2 separate regions of the Homo sapiens genome follow, and region 2 is linked to region 1. Evidence: fine-mapped expression QTL. Tissue or cell type: testis. Region 1 holds a variant in brackets; the other region holds the start of a gene. All regions are shown on one strand. Distances are between the middles of the regions.

The links. PIP is the estimated chance that this variant, and not a neighbour inherited with it, causes the effect.
Region 2: LINC02652 starts here. The variant in region 1 is the best candidate, but not a certain one, in a credible set for the expression of LINC02652 in testis (GTEx, PIP 0.88).

The regions. Positions count from the first base shown.
Region 1 is chr10:28,416,341-28,421,586 of GRCh38, forward strand. No RefSeq gene overlaps it. Among named protein-coding and RNA genes, the nearest start is that of LINC02652, 77 kb to the right of the region's middle. The variant G/A (reference allele first, on the strand shown) is at 2,396.
Region 2 is chr10:28,493,593-28,498,838 of GRCh38, forward strand. LINC02652 (long intergenic non-protein coding RNA 2652) reads right to left here and starts at 2,221. Exons shown (of 3, transcript NR_134496.1): 1 at 2,129-2,221. RefSeq lists an enhancer at 1-139.

The sequences.
Region 1 (5,246 bases):
CAGCCTCCCAAAATGCTGGGATTACAGGCAGGAGCCACTGTTCCTGGCTTGTTTTTAGACTTTTCTTTTTTTCAGACGGAGTCTTGCTGTGTCGCCCAGACTAGAGAGCAGTGGCGCAATCTCGGCTCACTGCAAGCTCCGCCTCTCAGGTTCACGCCATTCTCCTGCCTCAGCCTCCCAAGTAGCTGGGACTACAGGCGCCCACCACCACACCCGGCTAATTTTTTTTTTTTTTTTTGTATTTTTAGTAAAGCCAGGGTTTCACCATGTTAGCCAGGATAGTCTCGATCTCCTGACCTTGTGATCCACCTGCCTCGGCCTCCCAAAGTGCTGGGATTACAGGCGTGAGCCACTGCGCCCGGACTTAGACTTTTTAATAATAGCCATTATGACTAGTGTAAGATGATATCTCACTATGTTTTTAATTTGCATTTCTCTGATGATTAGTTATCCTGAGCATTTTTTCATATATTTATTGGCCACTTGTATGTCTTTTGAAAAATGGCTGTTCATGTCCTTTGCCCACTTTTTAATGGAGTTATTTACTTGTTTCTTGTTGAGCTGAATTTCTTGTAGATTCTTTCTCAGATGCATAGTTTGCAAATATTTTCTCCCATTCTATAGGTTGTCTGTTTACTCTGTTGATTGTTTCTTTTGCAGAAGCTCTTTAGTTTAATTAAGTTTCATTTGTCTATTTTTGTTTTTGTTGCATTTCCTTTGGAAGACTTGGTCATAAACTCTTTGCCCAGGTCAGTGTTCAGGAGGGACTTTCCTAGGTTTTCTTCTAGGATTTTCATAGTTTCAGGTTTTACATGCAGGTCAGGGGTATCCAATATTTTGGTTTCCCTGGGTCATGTTAGAAGAAGAAGAATTGTCTTGGGCCACATATAAAATACACTAACGCTAACGATAGTTGATGAGTTAAAAAAAAAATCTAAAAAAAGTCTTATAATGTTTTAAGAAAGTTTACAAATTTGTGTTGGGCCACATTCAAGGCTGTCCTGGGCCACATGAAGCCCACAGGCTGGGGGTTAGACAAACTTGATTTAGGTCTTTAGCCTACCTTGAGTTAATTTTTGTATATGGTAAGAGGAAGAGGTCCAGTTTCATTCTTCTGCATGTGGCTATCCAATTTCCTGGCACTATTTATTCAATAGGGTGTCATTTCCCTAGCGTATGTTTTTGTTGACTTTGTTGAAGATCAGTTTGTTACAGACAGATGCCTTTATTTCTGGGTTCTCTATTCTGTTCCATTGTTCTATATGTCTATTTTTATTCCAGTACCAGGCTGTTTTTGTTAATTTGAAATCAGGTAATGTGATGCCTTGACTCTGATTTTAAAAGAAGTTCTACTCTGGGTAAAATGCTATCAAACAGTATCACATGCTACAGAGAAATCTTTCATGAAAGGAAGAGTCCATCAATGTGACAAACTTTATTGTTGTTTTATTTTAAGAAACAGTCACCCAAACTTTCAACAACCACCATCCTGATCAGTCAGAAGCCATCAGCATCCTGGCAAGACCCTCCACCAGCAAAAAGATTACAGCTCACTGAAGGCTCAGATGATCATTGGCATTTTTTTTAGCAATAAAGTATTTTTAATTAAAGTGTGTACCTTTTTTAGACATAATGCTATTGCACATTTAGTGACTACAGTATAGTGTAAACATAACTTTTATATGCACTGAGAAACCAAAAAATTCATGTGATTCACTTTATTGTGATATTTGCTTTATTAGAGTGGTCGGGAAACTCATCTGCAATATCTGTGAGGTGTTCATGTATGTATCAATGGAAACCTGCAGTATATGTGTGGGAATGAGTTCTAACAGTGTTTGTGGCTGTTCATCAAATTCATTTCTCTTTCAGCTTCTTTACAATTCGACTACATTTCCCAGCTACCCTGAAATTAGACATGTTCATGTGACTGATTTGGGCCAAAGAAATACAGGCAGAAATGATGAGTGCCACTTCTAGGATTGGCCCCTAACAGTCTCCCTCAAGGAATTCTTCCATTCTTCTCTATCTGCTGGCCAGAGGCAGATGCTCAGGAAGACCTTAGAAAATGTGACTGGAAGATGACAGCCCAAGGCCCTGAGTGACTGCAAGGAATGGATCTACCCTCTCCTTTACTGCAGACTGTATTTTATGAGTAAAAAATAAACTTCCATTGTTAAGCCCTTGAGATTTTGATGTTTACCTATAATAGAGGTTAGTATTTCCTTAACTAGGAACTGTATTCATTTAATTAATTTATTTATTTTTTTGAGACAGAGTCTCCCTCTGTCACCCAGGCTGGAGTGCAATGGCGCGATCTCGGCTCACTGCAACCTCTGCCTCCCAGGTTCAAGCGATTCTCCTGCCTCAGTCTCCCAGGTAGCTAGGATTACAG[G/A]CGTGTGCCACCACGCCCAGCTAATTATTGTATTTTTAATAGAGACAACGTTTTGCCATGTTGGCCAGGATGGTCTCAAACTCCTGAATCTCAAGTGATCCGCCTGCCCAAAGTGCTGTGATTACAGGCTTGAGCCACCATGCCCAGCCGGTATATTCATTTCAGAATTTATCTTGGATATCTTTTCTATCCAGTACCTCATTCCTCTTAATTGCAACACAATGTTCCACAATATAGACATACCATCATTTACATTACTATTTTCCTGTTTCCAACTTTTTGCTATTAAAATGTTGCAAATAATACCTCTGTCTAGACCTCTTTATATAGTTGTTTCTTCACATCTAAAGCAGATATAAAGAAATGGAATCACTTGAACAAACAGTAGGTTCATGCTCAATTGTTGCTGATACTGCCAATTTGTGTTCCAAAATGTCTGTATGATTTATTCTACCATCAGCTGTGTATAAGAGTACCTGTTTCCCTGGTCTTCTGCCAATTTCAATAATGAGAATAATAATATTTCGAAAAACATTAAGCAAATGTGTTTTTCCCTAAATTTCTTCCTTAAACCGTATTTCCTTGCAGACTTCCATCCCTAAGGCTGATATACATGGGGCTTAATATCCTAGGAAAGGGAGAGCAGGTCTGATGGAAGAAAGGCTCATCAATTCAGAAGCTCACACCTGATATTTCTGAATCAGAAGCAAATTTCTGAAACCTGTCTTTGTCAAGAGAGTTTTTTCACATCCTATTGATATTTTAAGAGCCAAGCCTAGAGAGTTACATTATCAGTTTGCTTTTGCTGCATGATAAACTACCCCAAAACATAATGGCTTTGAACAACCATTGATTTGATCTTGATTCTATGGACCGGTGATTGAGATGGGCCATAGCTAGGAAGACTTGCTTCTGTTCTGTGTTGTACCAGTGGGGCTCACTCATGCACTGAGATTTCCACTGGGAAAGGCGGGATGGCAGAGGCCCTCTCCACCTGCTGACATCCTCCAAGAGGCTAGGCTATGCTCTTCACATAGTGACAAAGCATTCTTAGAAGCAAAGAAGGGCAAGTCTCAAGGCTCAGGCACTTTTGAAGCCTATGCTTGTATCCTTTGTCTGTAGCTCCATTGGCCAAAGTCACATGGCTCAGCCTAGATTTAAGGGTTGGGCAGACAGACCCTCATCTATGACAGGAGGAGCAGCAAAGATGCATACAAAAATTGTCACACCCACCGGGAATGTCATTTCACATGCCTCTACCCTAGACCTCCATGTCTCCAATCTTTCAGTCCTTCTGTTTCAGTCTGCTGGCAAACCAACCAGGCTATTCACCATTCCCGCGAGCTCTCGTAAATTCTCACCTTGGGCTACTTTTCTTTCTGCATAAAGTGGATGATCAGGTGATACTCAAAGTTCTACCCATTGGAAAGATTTTTCTCTCAACACTTTTTTCATTTTTTGTTTGTTTTTCTTGAGACAGGGTCTCAATCTGTTGCCCACACTGGAGTGCAGCAGTGCAGTCATAGCTCACTGCAGCCTTGAACTCCCAGGGTCAAGTGATCCTTCAGCCTCAGCCTCCCAAAGTGCTGGGATTACTCAGCACTGTCTTTTAAATTTCCGCCTGAGTGTGACTGTAATGCATCTGCTATTCATTTTAAACTTTCACCCACAAAACAATCTAAGCTAATCTATCCATAAACCGAGTTCAGGCTTTTTCTCCTCTTTCAGCATCTCTTCCTTTGCCCTCTATGGCCAAATGTGTGAGTTGGAGGGGGAGATGATGGTACAGCTCTAAAGAAAAGGGGAGTCTGGGCTAGCTTCTCACACATCTTACTGTGCTGCTCAGGCTCAGTCACTGACATTGCATTTCCGTCTTCATATAGACAGCGGCTGGGACTCCCTGACTCTGATTGGTGGGTTCAAGAGAACCCAGCTCAGGCTGGGCATGATGGCTCACAGCTGTAATCTCAGCACTTTGGGAGGCCGAGCAGGGAGGATCACTTGAGGTCAGGAGTTTGAGACCAGCCTCGCCAACATGGTGAAACCCCTTCTCTACTAAAAATATAAAACTTAGCTGGGCGTGGTGCGGGCGTCTGTAATCCCAGCTACTCAGGAGGTTGAGGCATGAGAACCACCTGAATCTGGGAGGCAGAGATTGCAGTGAGCCAAGATCGCACCCTGGATGACAGAGCAAGACTTGATCTCAAAAAAAAAAAAAAAAAAGAAGGAGAACCCAGCTCATAATGAGCATATTCGTGTTCATGGCCATGTAATGCTCCACGGTAAAGTGCTGCCTTGACTGGGGCCCATAGCACACCAGGAATTATTCTAGAAAGACAAAAGCACTCTTCCTCTGGAGCTTGCCATAAGCTCCACATGACATAACTTTCCAGCACTGACCTTTCCAAGGTCTTCCATATTGAATGGGCCAAGTGGCAGGACTGCCTGTAGTGCCACCTGGACTCACTGCAGAGCCCTTTTTGCTGCAGGATTCACTCAAAGCTGCCAGCCTTTCAGGTAACTCAGTATGTGAACTAGAGCTGTGTGCCCAGGTGTGGAATGGGAAGAGGCCTTCAGGGCTAGTACTTTCTTCTTGTGAGATGCAAGATGCAGCAATTTGTCTTTTAATCTGGACACCCAAAATCTTTACCTAAGTGGCAGTTCCATGAATATTCATAAAGATGATCTCCTGCCCTATGGAGCACATGTGTCCTGCCAAGGCCTCCTGCTGTTAGCACCTCTTGCTCGTCCTGTCCAATCAACACATGTCCTCAGTGTAACAGATCCATTTTGTGTTCTACAGGATAACTAGGTAATCCAGATCTCTTCTTCCTCTTTTTTATGTTTTTTA
Region 2 (5,246 bases), 77 kb after region 1:
GCCAGATGAGGTGGTGGGCGCCTGTAATCCCAGCTATTTGGGAGGTTGAGGCAGGAGAATGGCTTGAACCCAGGAGGCACAGGTTGCAGTGAGCTAAGATCATGCCGCTGCACTCCAGCCTGAGCGACAGAGACTCTGTCTCAAAAAAATAAACAAAACAAAACAACACAAAAAAACCTGTCCTTACCTTCTAGATAAGTCTTGGCATGAAGTCTATCCACTGAAGTAGTTTGTGACAAGTACTTGAAGCAAGTAGTTTGTGCATTTTTCTACATTTATGCTAATTATGTCTGTTTCAGAGTGGTAGTCTTTCAAAACAATATGATGTTTTTAAAGATATATCCACAAATCCTCTGATACTGCCTCCCTTAAGAGAAGAAACTTAATTCCTCTCTCTTTGTGTGAGAAAAAAAAAATCCAGGCACAGTGACTCATACCCGTAATCTCAGCACTTTGGGAGGCTGAGGCAGGAGGATCACTTCGGGCCAGGAGTCAGAGACCAGCCTGGGTAACATAGGGAGACCTCATCTCTACCAAAAATAAGATAAAAATTAGCTGGGCATGGTGGCATCCACCTGTGGTACCAGCTACTTGGGAGGCTGAGGTGGGAGGATCACTTGAGCCTGGAACGTTGAGACAGCAGTGAGCTGAGATCGCGCCACTGCACTCCAGCCTGGGTGACAGAGTGAGACCCTGGCTGAAAAAAAAGAAAAAGAAGAAAAAGACTGTAGATGTATCTATTTTGCTCTCTGTGAATGGGGCTCCTTAGTGTCACTTCTCTTCACTGTCTGACCATCTCTTCTGTCCTTCAGTTTCCACTTTAAATGCCTTTCCATCTGCCAAGCAGTCGGAGGTGTCCTTACCATACTTCCCAAGTCAGTTCACATCTCAGTTTTAGGGCTTGTATTGTGTCATTAGTCTGTTTCCAAGCCTATCTTCTCCATAGACTTGAGTTTCTTGAGGATAACCTCTGTTATCTTCAGGGCCCACCAGTGCTGGTCATACAGTGAGCTCTCCATGGACTTCATTGTGTGCATGGGTGGATAGATAATGAGGTGACAACCTGCCTCTCAGAGCCTTAACCACCCCCAGTTAAGCCATGAAACAAGGCTATGGTTTCCAGTTTGCACGACCTCCTCCCTAAGTTCATTGCCCTGGGCCTAGAATGAGGAGAATTGGCTGGTGCCACTTCTTTCCTTTTGGCTTTCCAATGGTTTTCTTCCAAGCTATAAGGCCTTGCTCTAGAGATTTTAAAGTATTAAGAACTGGAATACTGTTCTACATGTTTAGGTCAACAGAGTCAGTTGATCCATAGAATGCACATATTGGGTTTTTGTTTTTGTTTTTGTTTTTGTTTTTCAGCATTAGGTCTTCCCCCTTCTAAAGAATGATATGTGCCCCCGAACTCAGAAGTGATGTTTGATCCTAAATTACACATGCAAAACAAATTAGTTAAATAATGATTTAGTCCAGGTTCTCTGACAAGCAAATGCCAAAAAAGGATTAGCTGGATAAGAGATTAATTGGCGAAAATACTGGGGCACTGGGGAGGGATAATGAGAAGGAAACAAGAGGGTGATAGGAGAGCCATCAGATCATGACACACGTCTGCCCCCTGGGAAGACAGAGGGAAGGAGGGAAAGAAGGAAGGAAGGAAGGAAGGAAGTGAGGGAGGGAGGAAGGAAGAGAGAAGGGAGAGGAGGGAGGAGAAGGGAAGGAAGGAAGAATGGAAGAAACTGGAGACGGAAAGAGGAAAAGAGAAAAAGAGGGAGGGAGAAAGAAAGGAAGGAAGGAAGGGAGGGAGGGAGGGAGGAAGGAGGAAAGACAGGCCATAGACTGCCTTGTAGTTCTCAGAAAGTTTCAGCAAGGTCAAAAGGGAGTCAGTGAACCTAAGTTGCCCATTAGAGGAGCCCCTGCCTCCCAGGAAGGGGCCTCCTTGATATCCCTGCCATACTCAGTCACTGACTGGGAGCAGCCCACAGGAAGTGTGGCCTCAATCCTGGGCACACCAGCAGCTAGGGCTGGAAATAAATTATGCTTCCTGCAGTAGGAGATCTGAAAGTTGTATTCTCATGCTACTGCAGACAACAATTTGTATAACTCAGAGTTAACTACTCTCTGATCTTACCTGAAACAGTGGAGTGATCCAAGGCAAGTTTGGGGTTTAGTCCTCAATCATCCACCTGGGCCTTGTTCTCAATTCCACTAACTAAACAGAGGGTTGTAGTCACAGCATCCTAAATGAAGATTGAGAAGAAGGATCCACATTTTGCTAAAAATGTTAAGCTATAGCTCTGCAGCAAAATAATTCCTGCTTTCATTTCAAAAACAATAGATGTATTACTTTTCTTCTGCTTCTGCAAGACACCGATTCGAGAGGAGTGTTGGATGCCTGCAAACAGGCAAAAACAAAACAAAACAAAAAACAAAACAAAAAACCCCCCAGGTATCCAAAATCTAGTGACTGTTAGTCCAAAGTCTTACTTTTTTTTTATAGACTGATTTATGGATCAAGAAATCTTCAATTTGCCTTTGCTACCAAATGAGGCCACCTTATCATGGGTCATCTTTACCTCCATGCCCTAGCCCTGCTAGGGGACAGTGTCTCACCTCGACTAACAGGCGTTCAGTTACGCTGACATCAACTAGATTAAGAGAGTTGGCTCTTGCCCCAGTGAGTTGACTGTTTAGGAAGCCAGTGTTTGCAAGAGGCCTTCTTTGCAGAACTTGCTCTGCTAAATCTCTCATTTGGGGAACATTTGTAAACATTTATTATTTACTTTTATTTTTAGAGGCAGGGTCTCACTTTGTTGTCCAGGGTGATCTTGAACTTCTGGCCTCAAGCGATCCTTTTGCCTCAGCCTCCCAAAGTGCTGGGATTATAGGGGTGAGCCACTATCTTGGCCCTTCATCTGGGGAACCTTTTCAAAATGTCCATATAAACAGTGGTTGGATCTGGTGCAGACAAGCAGTCTTTGGAGGTGATGAAATCTGGTCTTGCATTCTAGCTCTACCACATTTTTGTCAACAAAGGCAGGTGACTGGTAGATGTCCAAATGTCAGACCTTTGGAAGAGCTCCAGAAGAAAGGGGAGATAATGCCAGAAAGGTCTAAAAGTAGCTGTTGGAATTTGGTCACAGAAAGTGACGTGCAGAGGAGCAACTCATTCACTAGGCTAGATGGAATTGGGGAGATAGAGGAGAGTCCAATTTGCAGGGAACGGGGTCAGTGAGGCATAGGAAGAAAAGCCACAGTCAGGTTTCTGATGTACCAAGGTGGAAGGCAAGGACTCAGGCACAGAAGTCTAAATAAGGAATCAACTTCCTGGATATACTGGGGAAACAGGATCAGATGACCCAGTGTTGGGCTGAAGATCTTGTTTCTTATCCACCACATACAGAGGATGTGAATTATTCCAGAGTCTGAGCTGGAACTTTCCTACTTTACAGATAGGGTTAAGCAACCCTAGATGCAAACTCCCAGGGTTCAGAATTAGGTAGACCACAATCTCCAGAAGCTGGATGTTTACATGTTCAAACTTTAAGATGATAATTTCTATAATAACAATAAATGATAGAAATAGAAAGTTCACAAATGTCAATTTACTTGAAAGTATAAGAGATATTTTAAAAAGAAATAATCCAATCAGGGCTGGGTGTGGTGGCTTACGCCTATAATCCCAGCACTTTGACAGGTCGAAGCAAGTGGATTGCTTGAGGACAGAAGTTCAAGATCATCCTGGGCAACATAGTGAGACCCCCGTCTCTACAAAAATTTTTTAAAAAATAGCTAGGTGTAGTGGTGCACACCTGTAGTACCAGCTACTCAGGAGGCTGAGATAGGAGGCTCGCTTGAGCCCTGGAGTTTGAGGCTGCAGTAAGCTATGATTGCATCACTGCACTCCAGCTTGGGCAATAGAGTGAGATCCTGATGAAAGAAAGAAAGAGAAAGAGAGAGAGAGAAAGAGAGACAGAGAGAGAGAAAGAGAGAGAGAAAGAAAGAAAGAACGAAAGAAAGAAAGAAAGAGAAATAAAAAGAAAGAAAAGAAAGAAAGAAAGAAGAAAGAGATAGAAAAGGAAGGAAGAAGGAGAGAGAGAGAAAGAGAGGGAGGAAGGGAAGGAAAGAAGGAAGGAGGGAAGGAAGGAGGAAGGGAAGGAAGGAAGGAAGGAAGGAAGGAAGGAAGGAAGGAAGGAAGGAAGAAAAAGACAGATAACACATTGGGATTCCATTATCCAAAAGGGACTAAAATAGGATCATGGAATAAATACAAATCAGCCTGTACTCATGTGTTATCAATAGGGCTGAGAAATTCTCAGTCTTCATTACCTTTTGACAACTGATGAGAGTGAACAGTCCTCTAAGATTAATGATGCACTGGCTGCCACTGCCATGCACAATCTAATCACTAAGTTAATGCTTTACCAAGAGGAATACTGCATATTTTTTTAAAGTACATATTAGAAAAAGAAAGCAGATTTGGAGAGTAAGATTCTGCTATCTTATTTCTTTTTCTTTTTTTTAATAGAGGGAGTTTCACTCTTGTTGCCCAGGCTGAAGTGCAATGGCGTGATCTCAGCTCACTGCAACCTCTGCCTCCTAGGTTCAAGTGATTCTCCTGCCTCAGCCTCCCGAGTAGCTGGGGTGACAGGCATGTGCCACCACACCTGGCTAATTTTGTATTTTTAGTAGAGACAGGATTTCTCCATGTTGGTCAGGCTGGTCTCGAACTCCCGACCTCAGGTGATCCACCCGCCTCAGCCTCCCCAAGTGCTGAGATTACAGGCGTGAGCCACCGCACCCATCATGTTTTGTTTTGTTTTGTTTTGAGACATGATCTCACTCTGTCGCCCAGTCTGATGTACAGTGGTGTGATTACAGCTCACTGTGGCCTCAGCCTCCCAGGCTCAAACAATCCTCCCACCTCAGCCCCTCCAGTAGCTGGGAATACGGGTGCACCCCCATGCCTGGCTAGTTTTTACTTTGTTTTTGCTTTTGTTTTTGTTTTGTAGAGATGGGGTTTCGCCGTGTTGCCCAGGCTGGTCTCAAAGTCCTAGGCTCAAGTGATCCACCTGCCTCAGCCTCCCAGTCTTATTTCTTTTCAGGTACTTAACACTCTATTTGGTAAATTTCATAGAAGCATTTCTGGATTATTTCTTTAAATGTATTTAATCCTCTAACAAGTTTCATAGGCAGGAGGTATTCTAGTCACATAAATATATAAGTTTAATGCTGTCTTTATTTTTCTT